2 separate regions of the Homo sapiens genome follow, and region 1 is reported to be linked to region 2. Evidence: microRNA targets listed by miRTarBase, many of them from high-throughput screens and not tested one by one. Region 2 holds a microRNA gene; the other region holds the end of a gene's coding sequence.

Region 1 (11,072 bases), not on the chromosome of region 2:
TGCTATCTGGGATCACGGCAACCTCCATCTCCTATTCCCTGTCTCCGTCTCCTCAAGCAATTCTTCTGCCTCAGCCTCCCAAGTAGCTGGGATTACAAGCACGTACCACCACGCCCACCTAAACTTGTATTTTTAGTAGAGATGGGGTTTCCCCACGTTAGCCAGGCTGGTCTCGAACTTCCAACCCCAGGTGATCTGCCCACCCCGGCCTCCCAAAGTGCTGGGATTATAGGTTTGAGCCATCACGCTCGGCATTGATTTTTTAATTCATATATTTTCTATACTTACTATATACTTTTTTGTTTTTTTGAGACAGAGTCTCACTCTGTTGCCCAGGCTGGAGTGCAGTGGCGTGATCTCAGCTCCCTGCAAGCTCTGCCTCCCGGGTTCATGCCATTCTCCTGCCTCAGCCTCCCAAGTAGCTGGGACTACAGGCGCCTGCCACCACGCCCGGCTAATTTTTTGTATTTTTAGTAGAGACCAGGTTTCACCGTGTTAGCCAGGATGGTCTTGATCTTCTGACCTCATGATCCACCTGCCTTGGGCTCCCAAAGTGCTGGGATTACAGGCGTGAGCCACTGCGCCCGGCCAATATATACTTTTCTATAGGTATTATTATTTCTAGTTAAAAAAAAAGGTTAAAAAGGGAAAAACCAAAACTTTTATTAATCTTTATTTAAAGATGCAAGGTAGAACACATTTTAACACTGTACAATGGCAGTAGCAGCTTTGCAAATGTTTATCTATATGGACTTTTTTTTCCTGCCTGGCTTCGTTATATAGCAAAGCATTTTTCTTTTTTCTTTCTTTTTTTTTTTTTTTTTTTTTTGAGACAGCATCTTGCTCTGTCACCCAGCAGGCTGGAGTGCAGGTGGTATGAACACTGCTCGCTGGAGCCTCAACCTCCTGGACTCAAGTGATTCTCCCACCTCAGTCTCCCGAGTAGCTGGGACTACAGGCACATGCCACCATGCCCGGCTAATTTTTTGTTTTTTGTAGAGACAGGGTCTTGCAATGTTGCCCATACTGGTTTCAAACTCTTGGCCTCAAGTGATCCTCCCACCTCAGCCTCCCAAAGTGCTGGGATTACAGGTGTGAGCCACTGTGCCTGGCCCCCAAGCCTATAATTTTTTAATTTATATATTTTTCTATACTTAACATATACTTTTTTTTTTTTTGAGACAGTTTCGCTCTTGTTGCTCAAGCTGGAGTACAATGGGGCGATCTCGGCTCACTGCAACCTTTGCCTCCCAGGTTCAAGCCATTCTGGCTCAGCCTTCCCAGTAGCTGGGATTACAGGTGTCTGCCACTATGCCCGGCTAATTTTTGTATTTTTAGTAGAGACAGGGTTTCACCATGTTGGCCAGACTGGTCTCGAACTCTTGACCTCAGGTGATCTGCCTGCCTCGGCCTCCCAAAGTGCTGGGATTATAGGCATGAGCCACCGCACCCGGCCAACATTTACTTTTCTATAGGTATTATATTTCTAGTTTAAAAAGAAGGTTAGAAAGAGAAAAACCAAAACTTTTATTAATCTTTATTTTAAAACATAACCAGATGCACCTTGGTTGTTTACATTCTCTGGTTGCCATTCAGTCTCAAAGTAAACACTGGGAGCATATGATAAATCGTAGTTTAAGGAAGCCATAGCACTTACAGAGTTCTCAAATGGTTACAATATAAAATCTGTCATAAAAATCAGTAAAAGATGCAAGGTAGAACACATTTTAACACTGGTACAATGGCAGTAGCAGCTTTGCAAATGTTTGTCTATATGATTTCCACAGGACTTTTTTTTTTTGCCTGGCCTCATTATGTAGCAAAGCATTTTTTCTTTTCTTTTTGAGATGGAGTCTTGCTCTGTTACCCAGCAGGCTGGAGTGCAGTGGTATAAACACAGCTCACTGCAGCCTCAACCTCCCGGGCTCAAGTGATTCTTCCACCTCAGTCTCCTGAGTAGCTGGGACTACAGGCACACATCACCGCTCCCGGCTAATTTTTCGTTTTTTGTAGAGTTGGGGTCTTGCAGTGTTGCCCAGGCTTGTTTTGAACTCTTGGCCTCAAGCGAACCTCCTGCCTTAGCCTCCCAAAGTGCTAGGATTATAGGTGTGAGCCACTGCACTGGGCCATAAAGCATTTTTCTTTTTCTTTCTTTTTTTTTTGAGACAAGGTCTCACTCTGTTGCCCAGACTGTAGTGCAGTAGTGTGATCTCAGCTCACTGCAACCTCCACTTCCATCGTTCAAGTGATTCTCACGCCTCAGTCTTCTGAGAAGCTGAGACTATAGGCACATGCCACCACACCCAGATAATTTTTATATATTTTTTTTGGTAGAGACGGGGTTTCACCATGTTGGCCAGGCTGGTCTCAAACTCCTGACCTCAAGTGATACACCCACCTCGGCCTCCCAAAGTGCTGGGATTACAGGTGTGAGCCACTGTGCCTGGCCCCCAAGCCTATAATTTTTTAATTTATATATTTTTCTATACTTAACATATACTTTTTTTTTTTTTTTGAGACAGTTTCGCTCTTGTTGCTCAAGCTGGAGTGCAATGGGGCGATCTCGGCTCACTGCAACCTCTGCCTCCCAGGTTCAAGCCATTCTGGCTCAGCCTTCCCAGTAGCTGGGATTACAGGTGTCTGCCACTATGCCCGGCTAATTTTTGTATTTTTAGTAGAGACAGGGTTTCACCATGTTGGCCAGACTGGTCTCGAACTCTTGACCTCAGGTGATCTGCCTGCCTCGGCCTCCCAAAGTGCTGGGATTATAGGCATGAGCCACCGCACCCGGCCAACATTTACTTTTCTATAGGTATTATATTTCTAGTTTAAAAAGAAGGTTAGAAAGAGAAAAACCAAAACTTTTATTAATCTTTATTTTAAAACATAACCAGATGCACCTTGGTTGTTTACATTCTCTGGTTGCCATTCAGTCTCAAAGTAAACACCGGGAGCATATGATAAATCGTAGTTTAAGGAAGCCATAGCACTTACAGAGTTCTCGAATGGTTACAATATAAAATCTGTCATAAAAATCAGTAAAAGATGCAAGGTAGAACACAGTTTAACACTGGTACAATGGCAGTAGCAGCTTTGCAAATGTTTGTCTATATGATTTCCACAGGACTTTTTTTTTTTTGCCTGGCCTCATTATGTAGCAAAGCATTTTTTCTTTTCTTTTTGAGATGGAGTCTTGCTCTGTTACCCAGCAGGCTGGAGTGCAGTGGTATAAACACAGCTCACTGCAGCCTCAACCTCCCAGGCTCAAGTGATTCTCCCACCTCAGTCTCCTGAGTAGCTGGGACTACAGGCACACATCACCGCTCCCGGCTAATTTTTCGTTTTTTGTAGAGTTGGGGTCTTGCAATGTTGCCCAGGCTTGTTTTGAACTCTTGGCCTCAAGCAATCCTCCTGCCTTAGCCTCCCAAAGTGCTAGGATTATAGGTGTGAGCCACTGCACTGGGCCATAAAGCATTTTTTCTTTCTTTCTTTCTTTTTTTTTTTTTTGACACAGGGTCTCACTCTGTTGTCCAGACTGGAGTGGAGTGGTGTGATCTTGGCTCACTGCAACCTTCACCTCCAGGATGCACATAATTCTCGTGCTTTAGCTTCCTGAGTAGCTGGGGCTATAGGCACATGCCACCACGCCTGGATAATTTTTATTTTTATTTTTGGTAGAGACGGGGTTTCACCATGTTGGCCAGGCTGGTCTCAAACGTCTGACCTCAAGTGTTTTGCCCGCCTCAGCCTCCCAAAGTGCTGGGATTACAGGCGTGAGCCACTGTGCCAGGCCTTTTTTTTTTTTTTTTTTTTTTTTGAGGCAGGGTCTGGCTCTGTTGCCCAGGATGGAATACAGTGGCACAATCTCAGCTCACTGCAACCTCTACCTCCGGGGCCCAAACCATCCTCCCACCTCAGCCTCACAAGTAGCTGGGACTACAGGCACACAACATCACACCTGGCTAATTTTTTTGATTTTTGGTAGAGACGGAGTTTTCATCATGTTGCCCAGGCTGGTCTCAAACTCCTGAGCTCAAGTCATCCACCTGCCTTGGCCTCCTAAAGTCCTGGGATTACAGGCGTGAGCCATGGTGCCCGGCCCTAGCATTTTTTTAATGATCTCTTATCCCACAAGAATGGTCAAGTCATTTAGCATTAAATGAATAGAGTACACAGTGGTTTACAATATTATAAACATTATAAGCGCCCCATAAAATATTATTGTTATAAATACTCAACTGCTTTATTCTCAGTGATTATTCCCTTTATTTTTACATAATGTAAATGTAGCTAGCAGGTTTAAAAAAAAAAACTTTTACTAGAAGCTGATATATATCTCTTAACGTCACTACCCATTTAATTTTTTTTTTTTTTTTTTGAGACAGGGTCTCTTGCTCTGTCACCCAGGCTGGAGTGGCAGTGTTGCAATCTCGGCTCACTGCAACCTCTGCCTCCCAGGTTCAAGTAACTGGGACTACAGGTGCGTGACACCACACCTGGCTAATTTTGTATTTTTAGTAGAGATGGGATTTCACCATGTTGGCCAGGCTGGTTTCGAAGTCCTGACCTCAAGTAATCCGCCTGCCTCGGCCTCCACAAGTGCTCGGATTACAGGCATGAGTAACCGCACCCGGACACCTGTTTAATTTTCATCCATAAATGTGTTATAAATATAGATGTGGATCTCTGGCCGGGCGTGGTGGCTCACGCCTGTAATCTCAGCACTTTGGGAGGCTGAGATGGGTGGATCACCTGAGGTGAGGAGTTCAAGACCAGCCTGGCCAACATAGTGAAACCCCATCTTTACTAGAAATACAAAAATTAGTCAGGCGTGGCAGTGCGCACCTGTAATCCCAGCTACTCAGGAGGCTGAGGCAGGAGAATTGCTTGAACCTGGGAGGTGGAGGTTGCAGTGAGCCAAGATTGCGCCACTGCACTCCAGCCTGGGTGACAGAGTGAGACTTCATCTCAAAACAAAACAAAACAAACAAACAAACAAACAAAAATCTCTATATATAGATGTGGGTCTCAAAAACAGGACTGCCTCTTAGGTGGTAAACACTGTCCCCAGGTCTGCTTTCTAGTCTGATGACTTTACAACAACACTCTATTTGGCATCTCAATGCAATATTTATCTGTAGAAATACAGTCTTTCTGGGGAGTTGCTTTTTACTTTTTAGAGATGAGTTCTTGCTCTGTTGCCAATGCTGGAGTATAGTGGAACAATCATAGCTCACCATAGCTTCAAACTCTTGGGCTCAAGTGATCCTCCCACCTCAGCTTCACAAGTAACTTGGACACTTAGACTACAGGTGTGCGTCACCATGCCTGGGTAATTTTAAATTTTTGATAGAGACAGGGTCTCGCTATGTTTCCCAGGCTGTATTACTGTCTTTGATTACATAGGTCAGTGACAACAGGGAACTAGGTCTCACAGTGACCTGCTATGGACTTCAGAGATTCCTTGGCAAGGCATTGTCGAAAATATAAGGTTCATGTTGAAGTTGTCATAAAATTTTTATGTAGCTGTATAAATGTGGACAGCAGATATAAAAATAAGGAATACCTTAGACTTCTGTAAGCCAGATATAAGTACCTACCTAAGATGCTAGAAATGATATTCTAATTTAAATTTTTTTTTTAATTTTTAGAGATGGGGTCTTGCTATGTTGCCCAGGCTGGAGTAGAGTGGCTATTCACAGGCATAATTATAGTGCACTACAGCCTCAAGTGATCCTCCCTTCTCAGCTTCCTAAGTAGCTGGGACTATAGGCATGTGTCACCACAGCTGGCTGATTTTTGTATTTTTAATAGAAACGGGGTCTCCCTGTATTATGTTGCCCAGGCTAGTCTTGAATTCCTGGGCTCAAGCAATCCTCCCACCTTGGCCTCCCAAAGTGGTGGGATTACAGGTATGAGCCAAGAGGCTATTTTTTTACTGTCATAACTGCACCTATACAGTACAAACTAGAGTTATCTAGTTAAATTTGAACAACCTCTCTAATCTAAATTGGGTAATTCCAGGATAAACATCACTTTGGAGATTGTATTTTCCCATCTGGTTCTCTTAATCATCATGCAAACTAGAAAATATCCAAATATCTGTATATACACTTTATATCACAGTATGTGTGGGCTCCATACATACTCTAATTCTCCAAATGCAATTATATTAGTATATCTATATAAACCCTACTACATTAAAAAAAAGGATTTGGGTGGGTTTTTTTTGTTTGTTTGTTTGTTTTTGTTTTGCTCTTGTTGCTCAGGCTGGAGTGCAATGACGCGATCTTGGCTCACTGCAACCTCTGCCTCTTGGGTTCAAGCAATTCTCCTGCCTTAGCCTCCCGCATAGCTGGGATTACAGGCACCCGCCACTATGCCCAGCTAATTTCTGTATTTTTAGTGGGGAAGGAGTTTCACCATGTTGGCCAGGCTGGTCTCAAACTCCTGACCTCAGGTGATCCACCTGCCTCAGCCTCCCAAAGTGCTGGGATTACAGGTGTGAGCCACTGCACCCAGCTGGGTGTTTTTATCTGTATTTGTTATGGATCATCTCATGGAGTGAGGCAGAGTTGGCATCAGTTTTGTTCATCAAAGCTGCTTGTAGAAAGTGGCAGAGTTGGAGTTGGGCTTCTAGGGTGAGCCAGCTATAAAAAAAAAAAGTCCCAATTATAATATCAATTATATTCCTGTGATAAGTACAACTCTCCTTTCTCAACAGAACCCAGAATTTTTGCATGGCAACACTGCATTCAGATTGTAAAAACCACTTTTCCCAGTTTCCCTGATGCAATCAGAAGTTCCTGGATAGGGCTTCTTTGAAGAAATGAGGCATAGCTTAATTAACATTTGCCTTTCTCCTTCTCTTGCCTAGAATGTGGACATGAGGCTTCAGGAAATGTAGGCATTTTGTATTAAGAGGATAAAAGCCACACATTAAGGATGGAAGAACAGTGATTATATGGTGAAGCCACTGTATTATAGTTGTGGACTTCCTACTGCCCAAAGAAATATTTAAATTAAAAAAATAAGTCCGGGAGCTAAGCTATGAGGATGCAAAGGCATAAGAATGATACAGTGGACTTTGGGGACTTGGGGGAAAGGGTGGGGTGGGGTGAGGGATAAAAGACTATACATTGGGAACAGTGTACACTGGCTGGGTGATGGGTGTGCCAAAATCTCAGAAATCACCACTAAAGAACTAATTTGTGTAACCAAACACTTTCTGTTCCCCAAAAACGTATTGAAATAAAAAATAAATTTAAAAAAAAAAAAGATAGTTGTGGGCCGAGGACGGTGGCTCACGCCTGTAATCCCAGCACTTTGGGAGGCCGAGACAAGAGGATCACTTGAGCCCAGGAGTTTGAGACCAGCCTGGGAGATATAGTGAGACTTCGTCTATAAATTTTAAAAAAACAGGCTGGGCCCGGTGGCTCACGCCTGTAATCCCAGCACTTTGGGAGGCCGAGGCAGGTGGATCACAAGGTCAGGAGATCGAGACCATCCTGGCTAACACGGTGAAACCCTGTCTCTACTAAAAATACAAAAAATTAGCCGGGCGTGGTGGCGGGCGCCTGTAGTCCCAGCTATTCGGGAGGCTGAGGCAGGAGAATGGTGTGAACCCAGGAGGCAGAGCTTGCAGCGAGCCAAGATTGCGCCATTGTACTCCAGCCTGGGCGACAGAGCGAGACTCCGTCTCAAAAAAAATTAAAATAAAATAAAATAAATGAGTTAGTTGTATATATTAAAAAAAAAAGTCCTAATTTATTTATTTATTTGTCAAGGCAGAGTCTTGCTATATCGCCCAGGATGGTTTCAAACTCCTGGCCTCAAGCGACTTTCCGGCCTTAGCCTCCCAAAGCACTGGGATTACAGGTATGAGCCACTACACTCTGCCATGTCCCTATTTGATTAAACCACTATAGTCAGATTTCTGATACCTGAAGCCAATGCAAAACCTGATACAGTTGCTTCACAGTTTAAGAAAAAAAGAAGCCTAAGGGTTGGGTGGGATAAGTCATCTATATCTAACAACAATTTTAACTAGACATCCTCCTCCTGAGTAGATTTTGGCAGCACAACATATGCCATAGGTCTTATCTGTGATTTTTGTTGTTGTTCAATATGTGGCTTTACAATTTATTATCGTTTATCCATTTCCAGAGTTCTCAACTCACTGTACCTGCTATGAAGTAGGGGCAGTGACAACAAAGATCTTAGAGCTAAACAGAAAAAGCAAGGGGCTAAGACCCGTGAGGCCTCGTCCCTTTGCTCCTGCCCTTCACAATTTTGGGTATCACCAAGGAACTTGATTAGGGGTAGCATGCTCTAAGAGGAGGAAAGAAGAACCTGGTCACATCTCCACTACGCAGAAAGCTGTATAGTGCCCAGTAGGACCAAGTTGATTGGTAAGAGAGAAATTATATTGTCCCACAAAAAGCACTGATTCTCAAACACGGAACAAAAGGAAGACAATATTGGGGTGGAAAGTGTCAGCAGTGGAGTCTGCTATGTCCCTGCATCCAGAGAGAGAACGAACTATAAACTTCAAAGCCAAAGATGCCAGCAGCCCTGTGTTCCAGCACTCCAGCAGGGGCAGCCGACGGATGGCTGTTCTTCACAGATCTAATGATAGAGGCAATTAGGGAGATGACTAAGATCAACAGGGTTTGGAAGAAGTCACACCAGGGCCAGCTGATCTACTGGGTTGGGTATGTGGTTGTATATGAATGTGACAAAGAAAGCTCTCAAGACCTTTTCCTTTCAACTCTGCAGGGTCTGACTCCTAACTACATCTCCATCCCTGTCTTTCACCACCATTGGGCTCCCTCTCTGTGTTACAGCCACACTGGTCACTTCTTAGTTCCTTGAATAGGCCATGATCCCTCACCCCATGGAACTCTTACGAATTTTGTTCTTTTTGCCTGGAACTCTCTCCTTCCTGACACTCATGGTGGACCCACCCCACAGTTACCCTATCCAGTAAATGCCTCTTCCTTCTTCGACTCTCACCTCAAGCATCATCACTTCCTAAGGGAGTCCCTCCTAGATCATCCAGGCTAGATCAAGTTCCTCTCTGGGTTCCCACAGAACCTCATTCCTTTCCTTCATAGCACATACTGCCATGTGATATTATACAAATATGGGATTATTTGATGAATGCCTATTTTCCCCACTAGACTGAAAGCTTCAAGACAGTAATCTGTATCTGTTTTTGCTTACCACTATATTCCCAGTACTTCAACACACTGCTGGGCATATAGGAAGTGCTTAGTAAATATTTACTAAAAATATGTACTAAAGGGATTAATAAAATCAGACATTTACAGATAGACATGATAATCCTACCTATAGTTCTTTTTTTTCTTTTTTTGAGACAGGGTCTCACTCCGTCACCCAGGCTGGAGTGCAGTGGTGCAGTCTTGGCTCACTGCAACCTCCGTCTCCTGGGTTCAAGCGATTCTCATGCCTTAGCCACCCAAGTAGCCGGGATTACAGGCACGAGTCACCATACATGGCTAATTTTTTTTTTTTTTGAGACTAAGTCTCGCTCTGTCACCCAGGCTGGAGTTCAGTGGCACAATCTTGGCTCACTGCAACCTCTGCCTCCCAGGTTCAAGTGATTCTCCTGCCTCAGCCTCCCGAGTAGCTGGGACTACAGGCATCCGCCACCACACCTTGCTAATTTTTGTATTTGGGGTAGAGACGGGGTTTCACCATGTTGGTCAGGCTGGTCTCAAACTCCTGAGCTCATGATTCACCTGCCTCGGCCTTCCAAAGTGCTGGGATTACAGGCGTGAGCCACCGTGCCCGGCCATTTTTGTATTTTTTTAGTGGAGACAGGGTTTTGTCATGTTGGCCACGCTGGTCTCAAACTCCTGGCCTCATGTGATCTGCCCACCTCGGCCTCCCAAAGTGCTGAGATTACAGGCATGAGCCACTCACTGTGCCCGGCCAATCCTACCTGTATTTTATAGAATTTTATGAAGCCTAAATATGAAAATACTTTGCAAAATACGGTACCATTTAAAAATTATTGTTACTAAGAAAGCTGCTTTAAATTATGATCATAAATTATGATTATGATTATTTATTTGAGACAGGGTCTTGCTTTGTCACCCAGACTGGAGTGCAGTGGTGCAATCACAGCTCACTGCAGCCTTGACCTCCTGGGCTCAAGTGATCCTCCAACACAGCTTCCCAAGTAGCTGGAACTACAGGCATGCACCACCACGCCTGGCTAATTTTTTGTATTTTTTGTAGAGACAGAGTTTCACCATGTTGCCCATCTTGAACTGCTAGGCTCAAGCAATCTCCCCACCTCAGCCTCCCAAAGTGTTAGGATTACAGTCATGAGCCACCACACCAGGCCAAATTATTTTCAAGCAAAGGAACCAATATTCTTTTCCTAAAGGGTTACCTGAAACTTTCTCCTTAAGGCCTGCGTCATCACTGGAGTCAGTCCTGTTCCTGTTTCCATATTTTCCTTATTGGTAAGAGGGGTTCCACCTGGGCTCCTGCAAAGGTATTGAAAATAACAGTAGCTGTATTTTATGGCAACTTTTAAAATGGACGTAGAAGGCATAAAGATATGAGAGTGTATTACCTCTCTACATCGACTTTTCTAAGCAGTTTCCGCAGATCCATCTGACTTTTTCCAGGAGTGCTGATAAAACAAAGATATAAAAATTAGAACTTTGGGAGGCTGAGGCAGGTGGATCACAAGGTCAGGAGATCAAGACCATCCTTGCTAACACGGTGAAACCTTGTCTCTATTAAAAATACAAAAAATTAGCCAGGTGTGGTGGTGGGCGCCTGTAGTCCCAGCTACTCGGGAGGCTGAGGCAGAAGAATGGCGTGAACCCGGAAGGCAGAGCTTGCAGTGAGCAAAGATTGCACCACTGCACTCCAGCCTGGGCAATAGAGCAAGACTCTGTCTCCAAAAAAAAAAAAAATTAGAACTTGCCAGATTTTATTATTTTTTTCCCAAAGGAAAGCAATCATTTCTATAGGCAACATCCTAGAAAGTAGTTCTATGTGTTACATTAAAAAATAGCAGTAGAAGCAGG
Region 2 (11,072 bases):
AGAACCCTAAATTATTGTTTTATAATTTGTCCTCTCCTTCTAAAGAAAAATGATTGGTCAAAAGTAATATTTTTATAAAATTTTCCAAAACTGTTATCCTCCTATTAAATTTATTAAATTCTGGTTTATTCTCCTTCTTCATTTTTATCACACATATCTTTTACCATCTTTTACTTTCCCAGATAATCAAACAATGCCAATTGGTTACACTGCATTTACTTATTTTTATTTTGTCTATATCTTTATGTGTACATATTCTATGTATGTAGGTATATATGTATGTATGTATGTATCTATCTATCATCTATCTTCCTTAAGATACCTTTATAATACCATTACTTATAGTAAAGAGTTTATGAAACATTCAAACATAGTCATTGATATTATATTGTGAAAAGTTTAAATTAGTGCCTTGGTGAATCATATGCATTATTTATGTTTTTTTCACCTATTTCTAAGAAGAATATCAAACAAAACAAGAATGTCAATATTTCTGAGAGTAAATTCTTCTATTTTACCAAATTCCTCTTCTCTCTATGGCCAACATATATTCCAATCACATACAAAGCAAAAACAAACCCAAAATCTCTGCAAAACTGTCTTTGTTTCCTTACAAGAAGAGATAATAAATACTGTCGATGTTATGTGGAGCCTCCAATTTGTAATTGCTCAATTGTCACTCTTCTTTTTACTCAGCTATTAAAAGTAATAGCTTACTTTTTCAATCTCAAGTCCTGTAACAAACAATAATATTCTGATTTACATTGTGGTGCATCTCAAATTGTTTTAAAATCTGAACTAAAATTACCTTGAATATTTTGTGTTGGACTTTTATTACTAGCCATGCAATACTATTCTAAATACCTGGGGGGTAGACCAGGAGAACAGGCCCAAGAGGAGTCATTTAAATATCAATGGTGAGACAGAAGCACAATTCAAAAAATTCATAATTAAGGCAGTATTTTCCTTTTGATAGTATGTATATTGGCATAATGTTGTTTTGAATTTTATTGGAAATATTTGAAAATAATACATAAAGTATGTAATGTCAGTCTAGTTAAAACTTGTATTTTTGTGGTATATCCCTCAATCTGATTTTTCCAACTGATTTGATAATGTTCAAAAAGCCAACATTTAAGATTCTGTTTCTCCAAAGAATATAAATAATATTCTCTTTCTCCAAAGAATATAAATAATAATGTCATTATAATCCCACAAAACTAGTAGAAATAATTGTACAATGATTTAATGAAATCTCCCCTGTGGCTGATGTTCAGCATTAAAATGTCACTATTAGTTGAATGCTTACCCTTACCAAGTATTCTAGTAAGCACTTTATATGCATTATCTTATTTACTGTCAATCATCCCAGTAGTACCATTAATATATCTTTTGTGTTAATAAGGAAAATTCTATTTAGAGTGGTTAAAGACCTTGTGTCAGCTGCTTAGCACTGGAGACTCTAAGTTCACTGGAATGAACTCTATTTTGTTTGATTCCAGAGTCTGTGTTCTTACGCTATAAATTATTCTCTCTTTCAAGATGCTATTGAGATCCTGGAATTGGTTTATATATTTGATCTGAATAGGACAATCTGAATTTTTAAGGTCATTTAATATTAAGTATAAAGTGAATTTTCTTTTTACATGACTGTAATTTCTCAAAGTGAATTCTCTTCTTCTCCTCTGATATTATGCTGTGTTCACCCCATCTTTAATCATAATATGTTTGGTTGGCTTCTTAGCAATTGTCAGCATCTTTGCCACATGTTTGGAGGCCTGATATCAGTTTGTCACCATGTACTGTATTTTTCCTGTCTGGTTGGGAGCAGAGAGCAGGTGCTTGGAAATCCTGCTCTCATCCATTCTCCACACATGACTGGTCTATGTTCAGCTGAATTATGGTGAATATCACTTGAGAACTGCTGTAGTAACTGCACTTCAAGACCTGCCTGTAATCTTGCCCTGCTATTTGATATTCATTCAGCAAAGCACATAAATGAAATTATTAAAACTATTTAAGGACTCAGATATGCTCATATCATCTTCAAGACTTATCATCTTATTATAATACATGAGAAATCAGCGTAATTCTGAAGAAGTTAAGCTTGACCCAGAGTTTGGAACACAATTGAAATACCTAATTGATGGTTTGTTATTAAACTATCAATTAAATGTATTTTTACATTTAATTTTCAATGTTGTTGATCTGCTGGTTTACAATTGGGAAACTCACTCAAAAGAGAAATGAAATTCAAAACTATAATGATCTATCATCTTACACTAGTTAAAGTGGCTTTTTTCAAAGAGATAGGTAATAATGGATGCTGGCCGGGATATGGAGAAAGGGGAATCCTTGTACACTGTTGGTGGGAATGTAAATTAATATAGCCACTATGGAGAATAGTATGGAGGTTCCTTACAAATCGCAAAATAATACTATCATATAATCCAGCAATCCCACTGCTGGGTATATATCCATAATAAAGAAAATTAGTCTATTGAAGAGATATCTGCACTGCCATGTTTATTGCAGCACTGTTCACAATAGCCAACATACGGAATCACCCTAAGTATCTACCAACAGATGAATGGATAAAGAAAGTACGGTACATATACACAATGAGATATTATTCAACCGTAAAAAATAATGAAATCTTGCCATTTGCAACTTAGATTGAAATTGAACACAAAGGTTTATGTAAACAGATACTCATGTAAACAAACTTTCAAAAGACAATTTTTGTTAATGCAAATATTTACATTAAACCAATCAATAATAAAAGTTTGCCTTGCTTTAGCAAATGTTTTAAATAAAAATTAAGATGTAAAAATATGAATAAGAGAAGCCCTAATCACTGGAAAATAATTATGTGTAAAAATTTTTAAAGATACATGTGAACACTTAAATGACTTAGTTGAAATAGATTTACAACTGTCTTGTATTACATACCTATTTTATACCGCAAGCGTACCTATATGTAGATTCTGGAAACCTCATGCCGAGGTAGAGATTTTAAGATTAATAGCAAAGCTCCAGATATAGGTAGATTTTCATATATTTCAAAGGCATGTATGCTCTGATACAAAATACGTTATTAGAGGAAAGCTTGCTTAAACTGTATAAGAGAGAAGCTTTTCTTGTTTCTAAGCACAGGTTTGAATTTTCTTCTGTTCATTTATTTCCCAGCAGGTGTCTCTATACAGCAGCGATATTCAGAAAGCACAAGAAGACAAGAACTAATTATATAAAAAAGAAAATGTAGCAAGGAGAGAAATGAACTGGTCATAGAGTATATCTATGTTGACAATATGAAGTCAAACTAAAAATATATACTCTCCATAAATAGTTGTATAGCATATTTTATTTTCTTCTTGATTTTATTTGTTTAAACAACTTTTTGAAAAGAGTCCTAGGAAAAGCTTTTAAAACAGTTTGTACTATATACAACCTATATAGGTTGGTTTTTTATATATATATATATATATATGTGCAGATATATATATATATATATATTTATATGTGCAGATTGGACCAAATACAAACCTCTAACAGTATCAGTTTACTCATTGCCATCTTGATCTGATAACTTCAGCATTTCAGATGAAACTTAAAGGAAGTAGAACTGATCTGTGCTATAATCATCAACAATGATTTAAAGGTGATAGTAGACAGTAAGATATTAAAAAGCAGAAAGATAGTGTAAAATAATATCACTCAAAGATGTAAATTATCCAGCTTTCCTTGATCAATGCATTACAAAAGTCACTATTTTCATTTAGAATGAGATGCAAAAGAGTGAATATTTTTAATGCTTAATTGTCAATACATAAGCTTTTTAATCAAACAAAATTTATGCTTTGATGGATCCCAGTTGAATTTCTACCCTAAAATAGATTAAATAAAACATTTCAACTTTACAGATTAAAGGAATTGAACTCATGCCTTTTTTATTGTAATTGCAGATTTAATGCATCACAACATTCTGAGATGAAAACACGAAATCAATACATGCTTAAAACTTAATAGCGTTAACTGAATTGCTTCTAAGTTAAACTTAAGTTTTAACATGTAGAGTTCTTATTTCCCAAACAATAAACATTCACCCAGTTTAAAAACACATGAAAACTATAAATTTGTAAATATAAATATAAAATGATATATAAATATATAAATATATTTATATATATATATAAATATAAATATATTTATATATAAATATAAATATAAATATAAATGATAAAATATAAATATAAGAATATATTCCACAAAATGGTTAAAGACAGAAAAAAATTCTAGCTGGATGGATCTCAAAGACAGTTTGCTCAACTTTTACATCTATTGGATTTTTTAGGACGTTAATAGAAATTTATAAAATCTTAGAACTAAGTATGTCACAAAAATGTATGTGTATTTTGGCCAATTATAGAGAGGCTATGGAATAATTGTACTCAATGAGGTCCCAATTTTCCTTTCACTCTGATGTTATATTTCTTTTATCTTATGTTTATTTTAAAAAATTAATACGTTAATCTGAAGGGCCACTAAATAAATCTTCCAGGCTTCCACGATACTTTCAGAAATGGATTGAACTGGCTGGGCGCAGTGGCTCACGCCTGTAATCCAAGCACTTTCGGAGGCTGAGGCGGGCGGAACACCTGAGGTCGGGAGTTCGAGATCAGCCTGACCAACATGGAGAAACCCTGACTCTACTAAAAAATAAAAATAAAAATAAATACAAAATTACCCAGGCATGGTGGCACATGCCTGTAATCCCAGCTACTTGGGAGGCTGAGGCAGGAGAATTGCTTGAACCTGGGAAGCGGAGGTTGCAATGAGTTGAGATCATACCATTGCACTCCAGCCTGGGCAACAATAGCAAAACTCCCATAAAAAAAAAAAAAAAATAGAACTTTTTAAATTCATTCTATTTAGATTAACAATCTGATTTCAAATTATCAGATAATATTTTCTGGTTTAAGATGAACAGAAAATACACTTGTCAATGTTTTCTCACAGTCTTTTTTTTAAGTAACAAAAACAAAATTATAAGAACAAATTAATGATAAAAAAAAAGAAAGAAAGGAGGTAGTGAGAGGCCACAAAAATGGAGAATTCCCAGTAAAGGAGAATGAGTACATCTTTAAAGAGAAATCAGAGTTGATAGGGTATATCCCAAGAATAAACATGGTTTTGTCCAAGGAGCCAAGAAGAAGCTCCAGGTTCTAAATCCACAAATTAAAAGAAAAGGAATGTGTCATGGGGCAACAAAAATGGGCTACTGAAATGTAAATCCATGAGAGCAGGGGTTTCATTGGTCTTGTTTGCTGCTGGAACTGACATAGAATTTTGCCTGGCAATAAAGAGTTCAGTACAGCATACAGAAATTTACTACCAGTAGAGTAAGGAGATCTGTCATTGTTTTATAGTTATTTTTTCCTCTTTATGGCTAACCAAGATATGGAGTTAGAATAAGCTCAGCTTTGTTGCACTCTCAGGCTTTATTTTCTGCTGTGGGAAGCTTCCAAAGGCATAAGACCAGTGGTGTGCTGGAGCTGCCTTCTACGGTCTATTAAAAGCCAGCTATTAAATTTTTAGGAATTTTGCAAGACAGGTTTTAAATGCACATATCAGTTTTTAAAAAATCTACAAAATAAATCTATACTTCCATATCTTCCATATATTATAATAAAAACATGCAATATATACTCAATATTCATTACTTTCTAATTATTCCACCATATTTTAATGCTATTGATGATCTTGTGGTTATTTACATCTGCGTGGGTGATGGAAAAGCTATCCAGTTGTCCCTCATTATCCCTGGAGATAATTGGTTCCAGGATCACTCCCACTAAAACAGAATCCATGAATGCTCAAGTCCCTGATTTAAAATGGCATATTACTTACATGTAACTTATCAATATCCTCCCGTATACTTTAAATCCTCTCTAGAATACTTACAATACTTAATACAATGTACATGCTATGTAAATAATTGTTATGCTTTATTATCTTTTTACTTGTATTATTTTTATTGTATGTATATTGAGTTTATTAGAATATTTTTGATCAGCAGAGGGCTTTTTTATTGTTGTTCTTTCTGGATATGCATGTGTACATACATGTTTTTCCACCTGCTCTACCATATGGAAATAGTTTGCTGACATTCTTCTAGATAGCCTCCAAAACCCAACCAATAAATTTAGCCCATATTATACACAGCAGAAAACAATAGAATTTATTTGTGCTTGCGGCACCCATATACATGGAAGAACTCAATGATGAGTGACTCAAAAGAAGTAATTAGAATTTGGAGCTTATAGATAATACAATTTTAATAGGTGAAAGGGAGAGAGAGAAAGGCACCTAGGGAAAACAGATGACTTTTTGGAAAGATAAATGGGCTTTCAGAAGAAAAAACAGGAGATAAAGTTTGTGATAATGTTTGTCTATATAGTTATGAATGTTTTTTCCTGTTTCCTTCAGGGCCATAATACTCCCCTGGAGAAGGGGTTTGAGGTAGGTTTTATTTACATTTTCCCTTCTGGGATTAGATCTACCCTGAAGTGCAATTTATAGCAGCCTTATTTCCCATAAGTTTCTACTTTTACTCAGATAAAGAAAGCTCTAGGAAGGCTTTTTTTTTTTTTTCTGCATCTGTTGAAAAGTTTTAAATAGTTTACTTAGATACATTTATTAGATTTGAATGAAAAGGTTGGTGTACTTTACTTTTCAAAGTATATACCAATTTTACAATTCTTTCTTCTTTACAGTAAACCTCATTTTTGACAAGTGGTTGGCTGTCTTAGCTTAACTTGAGATATGAAAATATAGGTAGAACATTTTTCTAGCAATCATCTACAAAGATGAAAATTTCCCTCTCAGATAGGCACTTGAACTTTTTCTTAATAATATAAGTACTTTATTGGAGAGTATGTGAACCCTCTTTTCTCAATAGATGGTCTTGTTAAATATATTTTTTAAATATGACAACAAAAGAACACAAGAAACTTTGATAAATTTTATTTTATAAAAACAAGAGTATTTGTTCTGCAAACACAATGTTAAGAAAAGAAAGAAACTGCAGACTGGATTAATATGTGCAAAACAGGTAACTAATACAGACTTGTATTTACAATGTAAAAAGAATCTGAAATACTTAATATGAATATATATATTTTTGAGACAGAGTCTCACGTTGTAACCCAGGCTGGAATACAGTGGCACCATTTTGGCTCACTGCAGCCTCAACTTCCTGGCTCAGGTGATCCTCCTACCTCAGCCTCTCAAGTGTCTGGGACTATAGGCGTGTGCCACCATGCCCAGCTAATTTTTTGTATTTTCTGTAGAGATGGGGTTTTGCTGTGTTCCTCAGGCTGGTCTAGAATTCCTAGGCTCAATTGATTTGCCCACCTCGGTCTCCTAAAGTGCTGGGATTATAGGTGTGCACCCACCCTTAATAAGACTAATTTTAAGAAAACAAACAACCAAATAGAAAATGAGGAAAGGATTTGACAGGTATTTCACCAAACATATATGGATGATAAATATGCATAATAAGAGTCTCAAAATCAGTAGTCATTAGGGAAATACTAATTGAAACCATGAGATACCATAGGTTGTTTGCAAGAATAAACGTGATATACCATTTGTGAAAATAAATTAGAAATTTCTTATAAAGTTAAACATAAGCCCATGACTCAGTAATCCTACTCACAGTATTTAACCAAGGTAAATGAAGACTTAGGTTCATACAAAAACTTGTATGGAAAGGTTTATAATGGTCTTATTTATTATTGTCAAAAACTGGGAAAACCTAAACATCCTTCATTGGTTAATGGATAAATAGTGACATATACATCCAATGAAATACTAGTCAGCAATAGAAAAACCTGATTAATAATATACACACAACATGGATGAATCTCAAATGCATGTGCTAAGTAACAAGAGGCAGAGAGAAAAAATTTTATATGGTATGTTTCTATCTAATGACATTCTGGAAAAGTAAAATATAGGAACGGAAAGCACATTAGTGTTTGCTATGGGCTGGGCGGGCAGGAGGTGTTGACTATAAAGTGCAGCAACAGGGGTTATTTGGGGGGTGATGAACTATTTTGCAGTTTGATTGTGGTCATGGTTTTATATGACTGTAAGCATTTATCAAATTTGACAGGGTGGTACATCAAAAAGTAAAATTTATGTGAATTTGAAAAGTGAATAATAATAACAGTGACAACATTAATCATAAAATCCTAGATGAGTAACAATGCCAAAAAAGTGATATAAAGACGAGAAGAACTTACAGCATTAGCACAAAACATTTTTTAAAAATTTAGGTCTCAGCTTCATTGTTATCTCCTCAGAAAAGTTTTTCCCTGACCATTGAGTATGAAGTATCTACTCGTCATTCTCAATCACAGCATCTTAATTTAATTATCTCCCTTGCACTTAATTCTAATCCAATGTTTTCTCATTTATTTAAGTTTTTATTATTTTTTGTTGTTTGTATTCCTGTGTTAAAATGTAATCTTGTTTTCTGTAATGCTCACAACTGTGAGCTGAGGACGTCGAATAATTCCTGGCATGAAGGATTACTTGATGCACATTGGTTAAATGGGGATAATGTCATTAGTCTTTGAACTGCAATGTAGGAGTTCCAAGTTTTTAAATAAGATTAACATGTCATATAATAAAAAACATTGATCAAAATTGAAATACCAAACAAAAGTCTCTTAAAAGCCACAAGTATTCAATAAATATCAATTTCTTACTAATATGAGTTGGGAAGTAAAACAATAAGGGCTAAAACTGACTAAAATATTTAGGTAGTATCTTTGGAAAAATAGGTAAAAACATATAAAGTATAAAAATGTTTTGAACTAAAAGAAAACTGTTTAATATAAAATCATATATAAGAAGAAAGAAAGAAAAGGCTGTGATTTTTTGCATAATTTGGATAAGAAACTCATCATATAGTTTTCACATTCTTAGAAGAAAAGTGAATAGCTTCAAGATGGCACCAAGAAAGAACTGCACAGATGCCAAATATACAGCTTAGGACACAATCAACTCCTTGCATTAAAACGACATGCCATCATAAGTTGGTTGCAAATTCCTGATTTGGGCAAAAGAATGGATGGCAATATAGAATCCCCCAGTTATGAGTTACTCATTAATTTATTAACTTGTAAGATTAAAATTAAGAAGCAGGACTCAAAAATGTTGTGTTTAGGTTTTTGTCTTAGTATACAAATTTAAGCTTGCTTGTTTGAGAACATCTGTTGTTTTATATATGGACTTTTTTTCTCAATTACCTATCTGTATCAGTCTAACTGTGAATAAGTTGTAGAGAACAGATTGATGTTGCTTCGACCTCTTTACCTAACAATATGACTGCAAAGACTAATTATTAGATGGGAAAGCTGACAGTTTATTCTCTGGAAGGGCTGGTGATTGGGATTGTAATGATCTTGAAAGATATTGTTGCAACTGTACCACTTCCACTGTTCCTACTATTCCTTTTTGCCTCAGATGAGGTGGCTCTGAGATAGGAGTTACAGCAAGGAAGTGTTAACATGATTATTATTACTAAGTTACTTAGCTGAATATGAAAAATGACCCACTGAGGATTTTTATATCTTCTAAGATCTGAGTGAGCCAAAAGGTAATCAAGAACACCCTGCACTGATGTAGAATATGGCCTGCTTTAAGTCCACTTTAAATAGCTATTCATTTTCTCATCCTTTCATTTATCCAGAGGCACTTATGGAATATCCGTGGTGTAACTGACCTTGTTCTAGGTACTTGTTCCCTGTTTTGAGACATCTCCTGGAGATCAAGGTCTTTGGAAATGTGGCACTGCTCTTGCTACTTCATTGTTCTATTCTTGATGTGACATTTTTGACAAAATTTTAAATATTCATTTCTAAAAGATATAATAATTTTGTGGTAAATGAAAATAATATGAAAGCCTTTGCAAAATACTAAGGTCAGTGGTTTTTCTATGTAAAAAATAAAATCATAACTTAGGGGTGGGATAGACAAGGTTCCCCAAAGAAAGTACACATGCTGAACTGTTAAGATGTTTGAAATAAGAAATCTCACTAGCAGTAAGCTGGAAAGAGTAGCGATACTATCTGAATATAGATTGGAACTATTTTAGAATACAGGGTAAAGAATACGGTTTCTTAAAGAAAGAGATTGGTCTTTATATGTTTGTATTTCAAAACGTCAAGCTTAATAAAGAACCAAAACTAGTCCCATTGAGGAATAAGAAGTTGTCTGTTATTTTGCCAGTATTCTAATTATTATATCTATTATATCCAAAAATCACATGATATCTGTACAAAAGAAAAGAAAAAGACAATGAACAATACCTGAACTACAATTCTACATGTCTTTATATATATATATGTATATATATAAATAACAATTTTCTCTCTATAGATTACAATTCTACATGTTTGTATATATGCAAATATATATACATATATGTTTTATATATACACATACATATATATATATATATATATATATATATACACACTACAAAAAGGGAGAATTCACTTCAGAACACAAGCAAATCTCTTATGGTATTGAACACAAATCTGAAGCAAAAAAAGTATCATTCAAAAAATATTTGAGACCGTTAACAAGAAACTTGAGTAAAATGTTAAAACACAAAAAACAAAACAAGATTAATACTCAATACATTGGCCAGCCAAACAATAATATATTTTATGAGATAAATATTTCTTACATATTAAACAATAAATAATAAAAATTAAAATTAACCAGGGGACAGAAATTAAAAAAGAATTACACCTAAGAATGCTTTCAATAGGATTGTTATTGTCAGACTAACATAAAGAAATTAGAAAACTTTGGGCTATTTAATGAGCAGGATATACACATCATTATAACCACTATGCATACATACGTGAGTTCAATTATTTCTCTCTCTGATATTATCAACCTCATTTCATGATGCTAGCAATTATCATAGTAGCTAGCATTTATGTTTACTTACTATGTGTATGTTCTTTATACAGTATAAACGGCATGCC

Evidence for each region. Region 2 holds the annotated microRNA hsa-miR-4307 (AAUGUUUUUUCCUGUUUCC, at 6,466-6,484, shown strand). A microRNA usually pairs through its seed, bases 2 to 8, with sites in the 3' UTR of a target mRNA and lowers its output. Matches are read on the target gene's strand: a 7mer-m8 pairs with bases 2 to 8, a 7mer-A1 pairs with bases 2 to 7 and ends in A, and an 8mer does both.
Region 1: the mRNA of PRR11 is a reported target of hsa-miR-4307. Seed matches in the 3' UTR shown: 7mer-A1 at 5,368-5,374.

Annotation. Positions count from the first base shown.
Region 1 is chr17:59,197,141-59,208,212 of GRCh38, reverse strand. It overlaps PRR11 (proline rich 11), which reads right to left. Exons shown (of 10, transcript NM_018304.4): 8 at 10,610-10,669; 9 at 10,424-10,520; 10 at 1,504-6,650. The coding sequence ends at 6,582. Among named protein-coding and RNA genes, the nearest start is that of SMG8, 7.4 kb to the left of the region's middle.
Region 2 is chr14:26,902,232-26,913,303 of GRCh38, forward strand. It overlaps MIR4307 (microRNA 4307), which reads left to right and starts at 6,411; the gene lies at 6,411-6,494. The region is part of intron 3 of MIR4307HG (MIR4307 host gene); the gene reads left to right.